Linked DNA regions of Homo sapiens: region 1 is linked to region 2. The links come from fine-mapping of genetic effects on gene expression. A gene starts in region 2. The other region holds a variant in brackets. All regions are shown on one strand. Distances are between the middles of the regions.

What was found. PIP is the estimated chance that this variant, and not a neighbour inherited with it, causes the effect.
Region 1: its variant is the best candidate, but not a certain one, in a credible set for the expression of DTX2 in whole blood (INTERVAL, PIP 0.74).

The regions. Positions count from the first base shown.
Region 1 is chr7:76,480,526-76,484,904 of GRCh38, reverse strand. DTX2 (deltex E3 ubiquitin ligase 2) reads right to left here. Exons shown (of 11, transcript NM_001102594.3): 3 at 4,128-4,379; 4 at 1,758-2,397. Among named protein-coding and RNA genes, the nearest start is that of DTX2, 21 kb to the right of the region's middle. The variant G/C (reference allele first, on the strand shown) is at 2,228.
Region 2 is chr7:76,459,629-76,464,007 of GRCh38, reverse strand. DTX2 (deltex E3 ubiquitin ligase 2) reads right to left here and starts at 2,299. Exons shown (of 11, transcript NM_001102594.3): 1 at 2,172-2,299; 2 at 299-463.

The sequences.
Region 1 (4,379 bases), 21 kb before region 2:
GAACACTGCTCAGCCTGAGAGCATCGTGGGATGAGTGAAGTCACTCAAGCAGCCTGCTCAGGAGGGCCTGGCACATGACACGAACCAATGAGCGGGAGGCGCTGTCACTGTGTCTTACACAAGCTGGCAGGGTCCTCGGAAACCCAGTCTGAACAAATACTAGAGGTCCAAGAAGCTGCCAAGGCGGTCTCAACCACCCTGTGAAGTTTCAGCCCTTGACGTGGCTGCGGTGGGCAGGGGTGGGCCGGTGAGCAGGGAGGCAGCAGGATGCCGACCAGGGCCAGTGCGGAGAAAGGAGATGATTTCCTCCCTGGGACCAGGGTGGCCCCAGGCCCACCCACTCCCTCACCACCCGCACCAGGGCACTCTCAGAAAGCCCTGTCCCAGCTACCACTCTGAATTCTCAAAATGTGCTCCAAGCCCAACATTCTCAATAATGAATGACGAAGCCCCAAGTCACCCAGACAGTCAGAGGGCTACGGCCAGCCCATTCACCTTGGCCAAATCCAGGGAAATCCTGGGGGGGTTCCTCATTTTATCTTTTTTATTTTTTTCCCCCGAGATGGAGTTTCGCTCTTTGTTGCCCAGGCTGGAACGCAGTGGCACGATCTTGGCTCACTGCAACCTCCACCTCCTGGGTTCAAGGGATTCTTTTGCCTCAGCCTTCCAAGTAGCTGGGATTACAGGCGCTGGCCACCATGCCTGGCTAATTTTTGTATTTTTAGTAGAGATGGGGTTTCACCATGTTGGCCAGGCTGGTCTTGAACTCCTGACCTCAGGTGATCCGCCCACCTCGGCCTCCCAAAGTGCTGGAACTACAGGCGTGAGCCACTGGGCCCAGCTTTAAGACAGGGTCTCGCTCTGTCACCTAGGGGGCTGAAGTGCAGTGGTGCGATCACAGCTCACTGCTGCCTTGACCTCCTGGTCTCCAGCAATCCTCCTGCCTCAGTCTCCCAAGTAGCTGGGATTACAGGTGTGTACCACCATGCCTGGCTAATTAAAAAAATTTTTTTTGTGGAGATGGGGTCTCGCTATGTTGCTCAGGCTGGTCTCTGACTGCTGGGTTCAAATGATCTTCCTGCCTTGGCCTCCCAAAGTGCTGGGATTAAAGGTGTCAGCCTCTGTGCCTGACCAATCTCCTCATTTTAAATGCCACCCGCTCTGGTCTGCACTGGGCCCGTGGTATCATTCTCTCTCTCTCAAGGAGCTGAGCGCTCTACCAGGCACTCTGGGCTGGGCTGCATCATCACGGGGGCCAGGTCACCCATGCCACCTGCAGCCACTGCCACGTGCTCCACATTCTGCCCTCCCTCACACCGCGCTGACAGCCCCTTGCACTAGACTAGGGCTCAGGGGTAAGGGCTGATACTCTGGTCTCTGGGTCCTTAGGGCCTGGCACAAGGCGGGAGTCAGTGTACAGGCAGTGACCCAGTGTTCTCGGGCACAATGCTCGCCATGCAGCCCGCAAGCAGAGGCCACAGGCCTTTAACTCTGCTCCATGTGGAGGCCCTTAATCATCATGAGTGAAAGGACTGTAGATTCTAACCCGTGTGGTGACCGCCAGGACTCAGGTACAAGGGGTCAGGTAGGCTCTGGATGGCCACGGCACCTCGGCACCCACATGCCACATGCAAATGAGATGCCACGGCAGGACCACCTAGGGGGCAGGAGCCGCATCTGCAGGAATTGGGGTGAGTCTTCCCGGCTAAGAGCGGAAACACAGGGCAGACAAAACGAGCGGCCGTTGCCCACGATACCTGACTGCACCGGAGGTGGAGGATCCTGGGGGCAGGTGCTGCGGTCCCAGGTGGGAGAGGCTGGAGCGGTAGAGGGGCTGGCTCCCCAGGGAAGGAGGAGCTGCGCCCCAGGCGTTGGTGGTGTTCAGCCTGGGCGCAGACCGGGCCCCGGAGAGTGAGGGTTTGTTGTACGGTGCAAAGGCCTGGTGGGTCCCAAACACAGAAGCGGTCCTGTGTGGGGGGTGCTGGGGGACGGGGTATGCAGGGAGGTTGGTCATGGAGTGGCGGTAGCGGCCTGACACGGGGCCAGTTCTGCTGCCACTGAGGCACTGGTGGCAAGAGCAGGCGACGCCTGTGTGGCCCGGCGGAGCGATGATGGTGGTCACCGGGTAAGGCGGCCCTGCTTGGCGCCGCACGCTGCGGCAGAAGCTGGAAGTCTTGTTGGTCTGCGTGTGGGTGGTGTAGTTGACAGTGTAGTTGTACCCCAGGGG[G/C]GCCAAGTCCACGAGCTGGTTGCCCCTGGCCACCTGCTGCTCCAGATAGTCACAGACGCTGGCTTCATAGGCAGTCCAGGAGCCATCGTCGCTCAGCCACTCCCAGACGACACCTCGGCCAGGGGCTGAGTGCTGGGGGAACAGGTGTCTCCGCACAGCCCGCATGGTGCCTATTTTCAAAGGAAAACAAAAGGTTAGTCTGCTAGCATCCCCAAGATACAGGGAACGTTCAAATTCTTTTTTCAACCGCCAAAATAAACAAATAGGAACACAGTAGGTACACAGTCATGCTGCTATTTGTTTATTTATTTATTGTTAGAGGCAGGGTACCCCTTTGTCGCCCAGGCTGCAGTGCAGTGATGTGATCATAGTTCACTGCCACCCTGACCTCCTGGGCTCAAGCGATCCTCCTGCCTTAGCCTCCTAAATAACTGGGACTACAGGCACATGACACCACACCCAGCTAACTTCAAATCGACCTCTACAACACCTGCCACTTTCATTCCCCGATTAACACTTCCTGCTCTCTGCCACGATATGCAATTTCCATGTTATTATTTATCCTGTCTGCTATCTTTCTCAGTTGACTTCACACACTGTGAAGGCAACGACTTGGGAGCTGACTGACAGCCACAGTTTTCACAGACTCTACGACACTCCTGGAAACACATAGTTTCCAGGGCTGGGCATGACGGCTCGAGCCTGTAATCCCAACACTTTCGGAGGCCAAGGCAGGAGGATCACTTGAGCTCAGGAGTTGAAGACCAGCCTGGGCAACACAGGGCAATGGAGACCCAGTCTTTACAAAAAACAAACAAACAAACAAACACGAAAAAAAAAAACCCATACTTTTAAAAATAAAACTAAAATTAAAATTGAAAAAAAAAAGGAAAAACCAGTTTTTCAAGTTTCCTCACTGGTGACACTGTGGGCCAATAATTCCTTACTGCAGGGCCAGCCCAGTGCACTGCCGGATGGCGAGCAGCATCCCTGGCCTCCACCCACCAGATGCCAGGAGCACCCCCACCTCCCACCCACTCAGCTGTAACAACCAACAATGTCTCCAAACATTGTCAGATGGCCCCGGGGACAAAATCACCCCCAGTGACAACCACCAGATTAGAGTAAGGGATGGCTCCGAGAGGAAACTGGTGCCTCATTCTCAATAATACTGATCAAAACACACTGCAGGTCCAGGCGCGGTGGCTCATGCTTGTAATCCCAGCACTTTGGGAGGCCGAGGCAGGCAGATCACCTGAGGTCAGGAGCTCGACACCAGCCTGGCCAACGTGGCAAAACCCCGTCTCTACTAAAAATACAAAAATTAGCCAGGTGTGGTGGTGGATGCCTATAATCCCAGCTACTCGGGAGGCTGAGGCAGGAGAATCGCTTGAACCCAGGAGGCAGGGGTTGCAGTGAGCCGAGACTGCGCCACTGCACTCCAGTTTAGGCAACAGAGCCAGACTCCGTCTCAAAAAAAAAAAAAAAGATCAAAACACATCGCAGACCAAAAAGCAGAAACGCACACATGCAGAGGGGCGCAGTTGCCTGCCCAGGGCACACAGCCACTGAGTGGTGGGACAGGGCCCTCTGAACTCCTATGACGCACCACCTCCATGCCGGCCTGCCGGCCAAAGGAACCCTTCAACCTCTGTGGTCGGGACAGGCATTTCTGCTTTGCAAGACAAGGGGAAGGGCCTCCCACAGTGCCTCTCCCACTGTGAGCTGCACTCAACCTATGTGGATGTTCCCACTCACTGCACCCACCCACCACCACGTGTGCTGCAGGGAGAGAGCAGAAGCTCTGTAAGTCACGTCCATCACCCCAACACCTGGCGCAGAGCCTGTGGGAAAGCAGGTGCGGCACCCAGATATGTGCGAGAGGCAGACAGCGTCTTACCGGTGTCCTGGCGGAACTGGGTCCAGCTGGGGAGGTCAATAATGTAAGGGGCCAGCGAGGGGTCTGCCTGGCCCAAGGGGATGCTGTGGGCCAGGCTCCCAAGCCCAAAACGTTGGCCCTTCTGCTGGACAAACTGCTGCTCGATGAAGCTGCAGACGGTGGCACTGTAGGGGTGCCAGGTGCCCAGCCCGTCCTGCCATTCCCACACGGCCACAGCCGCGGGGCTGGTGTACACCTGCACCAGGGAAGGGC
Region 2 (4,379 bases):
GTAAGGGTTTATGCAACAAAAGAAATGAAAACTGCCACTTCAAATGCAGAAATCGTGACTTGTGTCTTCTATCCCATAAAGCATGTCTTAAAGTGGAAAGCATCTTCTAAGACTAGTTAGTTAAACAGGAGAAGCAGTGGCAAGACGCCACTGCAATTTATTTGAGACAGGTGGCAATCAACAGTCAACTCCCAGGGCACACGTTTATCCTGCAGACCTCAAATTCCACCCTCCCCAATCCCCACCTTCTCTGCACCAGATAGAGAAGGCAGCAAGGTCAAGTCCCCATGGCTCTCACCTTTTCTCTCTGGAGAGCTGGCACAAACTGTCCCTTCTGGATGAAGACACCAGCTCCTTAGGAGGAATGACTTGTTTGAGTTCCCATCTTGATACAAACCACAAACAACAAAAACCGGGCAAATCTGAAAGGCTTGCTGACTCAGCGACACAAATTCCAAGGCACCTTTGCCAACGAGGAAGAAGATGATCAGGTTTTAAATTAAGAAACAGCAGTTAGTAAAAACAAAGGTACAGATGTTGGATCCGTGTGCTGTGCCTGGGGACTGAAAATCACCAGATTTATTTTCCAATAGCCTGGGTGGAGCAGGAGGTACAACAGTCTTCCTCCACCCACTTAACAATCAAGGAGATGGTTGAAGAAACAACAAAAAGCAAACAAACAAAAAAACCCTGAGCTCTTTTTAAAATTTTTTATTATTATTAGTTTTTGGAGACGGAGTCTTGCTCTGTCACCCAAGCTGGAGTGCAGTGGCGTGATCTCGGCTCACTGCAGCCTCCGCCTCCCAGGTTCAAGCTACTCTCCTGCCTCAGCTTCCCGAGTAGCTGGGATTATAGGCTCGAGTCACCACGCCTGGCTCTGAGCCCTTTTCTTAAAAAAAAAAAAAAGTTCGTTTTTTTAGTTTGTTTGTTTTTTGTTTTTTGAGACGGGGTCTCCCTCTGTCGCCCATGCTGCAGTGCAGTGGTGTGATCACAGCTCACTGCAGCCTCCAACTCCTGGGCTCAAGCGATCCTCCTGCCTCAGCCTCCCAAGTAGCTGGGACTACAGGCACCCACCAACACGCCCATCTGATTTTTTATAGAGACAGTGATCTCAGGAATCCTCTTCGTTTCCCAGGCTTGTCTCAAATTCCTGGACTCAAATGATCCTTCCACCTCGGCCTCCCAAAGGGCTGGGATTACAGGCATGAGCCACCGTGCCTGGCCTGAGCCCTTTTACAGAAAACTCTAAAAGGACTTCATAAGCCAGTCTGGCAGCTAAGCATCCAGGAAATCAACACACCAGAGAGGGTAAATATTTAAGGTCACAGAGCAACCGAATCAGAGGGCTTGCTATCCGGATGGCTTAAGCCCGGATGGTGGCTACCAGAAAGTCTACCTTCTAGAGCGCTAGAGGAGCTAGGAAGGCATGCAGAAATATTCTGAGTTTCTCAAGGGTCCAGGCGTCTGTACACATGCTATTTATTTCCATCGCTGTTGGCGCTTAGAGAAGTGGAGCCAGCTTGGAGGAGGAGGGCAGCTGGCTGAGACAGTCGCGATGAAAGCGCAGCTCCAGAAAAGGGAACCGAGTTCTAAATCTTTTTCGGCACCCCTTACGCACCCCAAAAAGTGACCCAGGGCCCCAGGAACTCCTGGGAAGACCCCCCACAGGAAAGCAGGGAAGCAGAGTTAGGAAGCAAACTCCTCCAAAGTACAACCCCCGGCCCAGTGAGTCCCTTCACCTGGGGGTAGACCCCAGCAGGACCAACCCCTCGTCAGGGAGCCGGTGGCAATCTCGTCACCCCCTCCTCTGGGTACTTTGGGAAGGGGTGCGCGCCTTCCGAGCGACCCGGAACCGCGCCCCTCCGCCTGCGAGCCCCTCAGCCTTCATCCGAACGTCCCCTTTCGCACCCGGCACCCTGTCCCGTCCAAAGCTGCCGGCGCCTCCCAAGTCCCCCAACTCTCGCCCTCAGGACCTTGATCCCGGAGACCGATCCCCCCGACACCCCCGATCTCCCGGGACCCCCGGGTGTCCCCGCCGCCCCGGCCGTCGGTCCCCCTCACACCCACGCCCGCCCCCTTCCGGTCCCAGCTAGGCTCCGGCTCCCCGCGCCACCCCGCGCCCCTGGGACCGCAGCCCTAGCGACGCGCAGGTGGCCTTCCCGCCCTCTCACCGAGGCTGAGGAGGACAAGAGGACGGGGCTGAGGGCACCACCGCGCTCGGGCTGCAGCTCCGGCTCGGCCTGGGCAGGGCTCTGGCTGTGGCTCCGACTCTCAGGAGAAGGCAGCCAGAGTGAAACTCGGCGTCGCAGCTTCCGAGCGAGCCGCTGCGCATGCCCGGGGCGTGCGGCCTTCTGGGAAATGTAGTCCCGGTAGGGCCCAGGGGCGGGCAGAAGGCGGGGCTCAGCGGGGAAGGGCTCAACCCAAGGCGCACCTGCTCCGGTCTATGTTTTCTTCCTTCGCCTGCTCACTCATTGACTTATTCCTTCATTAATTACTGACTTAATTTTAACTAGTTTTTACTAGTACATACATGGTGCCAGTACATACATGTGCTACTGTTTCTCTTTTTTTGTTTTTAAAATTAATTTTATTTTTCTTTTTTGTACAGATGGGGGTTTTGCAATGCTGCAACGTTGCTCAGGCCGATCTCAAACTCCTGGCCTCAAGCGATCCTCTTGCTTCATTCAGCCTCCCAAAGCACTGGGGTTGCAAGTGTGAGCCATCGAGCACAACCTTTTTAAATTTAAATTTTTGTCTTTTTCTTTTCTTTTTTTCTCTCTTTCTTTCCTATTTATTTTTAATATTTATTTATTTATTTAGCTACTGTGTAGTGGGAGTGCGGGAGTGAATAGGTGAATCAGAAATGGTTTCTTGGCTGGGCGCAGTGGCTCATGCCTGTAATCCCTGCACTTTGAGAGGCAGAGGTGGGCGGATCACCTGAGGTCGGGAGTTCCAGACCAGCCTGGCCATCATGGCGAAACCCCGTCTCTACTAAAAATACCAAAAAAAACTAGCCGGGCGTGGTGGCTCGTGCCTGTAATCCCAGCTACTCGGGAGGCTGAGGCAAGAGAATCGCTTGAACCCGGGAGGCAGAGGCTGTAGTGAGCCAAGATCGCGCCATTGCACTCCAGCCTGGGCGACGGAACAGGAATCCCTCTCAAAAGAAAAAAAAAAAAAGACGAAGAAGAAGAAAAAAGAAAAAGAAAAGGTTTCTCGCCGGGAGCGGTGGCTCACGCCTGTAATCCCAGCACTTTGGGAGGCCGAGGCAGCCAGATCACAAGGTCAAGAGATTGAGACCATCCTGGCCAACATGGTGAAACCCCGTCTCTACTAAAAATACAAAAATTAACTGGGTGTGGAGGCCGGGCGCAGTGGCTCACGCCTGTAATCCCAGCACTCTGGGAGGCCGAGGCGGGCGGATCACGAGGGCAGGAGATCGAGACCACGGTGAAACCCCGTCTCTACTAAAAATACAAAAAAAAAAAAAAATTAAGCGGGCGTAGTGGTGGGCTCCTGTAGTCCCAGCTACTCGGGAGGCTGAGGCAGGAGAATGGCGTGAACCCGGGAGGCGGAGCTTGCAGTGAGCCGAGATTGTGCCACTGCACTCCAGCCTGGGTGACAGAGCGAGACTCCGTCTCAAAAAAAAAAAAAAATAATAATAATAATAATAATTAACTGGGTGTGGTGGCGCGTGCCTGTAATCCCAGCTACTTGGAAGACTGAGGCAAGAGAATCACTTGAACCCTGGAGGTGGAGGTTGCACTGAGCCAAGATTGTGCCACTGCACTCCAGCCTGGACGACACAGTGGGAATCTGTCTCAAAAAAAAAAAAAAAAAAAAGAAAGAAAAGAAAAGAAAAGAAAGAAAGAAGAAAAGAAAAGGATTTCTTTCCTGGGAAAGCTTTGTATCTAGTTGGAAAGTCCGGCACTTAAACACACAATTACGATATAGTGGGGAAAATGTTTGGATAAAGGAGGGCATAGAAGGGTATGCCTAACTTGAGGGTGGGGAGAAGACATCACAAGACAGATAAAGGCTATGTGGGTTTTTCAGTCCATAGAGAAATTTGCCAGTTGGAGCATAGGGAAGCTCTTGTAAAGCAAGAGAGATGTGAAAGTGCCTCATGCACTCCGGAGGCAGCACAAAGTTCCTGGTGGCCAGGGCAGAGGACACATGGAGGGAAGGGAGTGAGGAAGGAGAAAATGCACTAGGCTATAGCAGGATCTGAGGAGTGTGGGGAGAAGCCGGGGTAAGATTATGATGAATTTTAGATAATGTGAGTGTTTGCACATGTGTGCACATACTATGTATGTTGAATATTATGTATACAGTTTCAGGGGGATCAAGGTCCTCTGAATCTTGGAGGACCAAGTACCCAG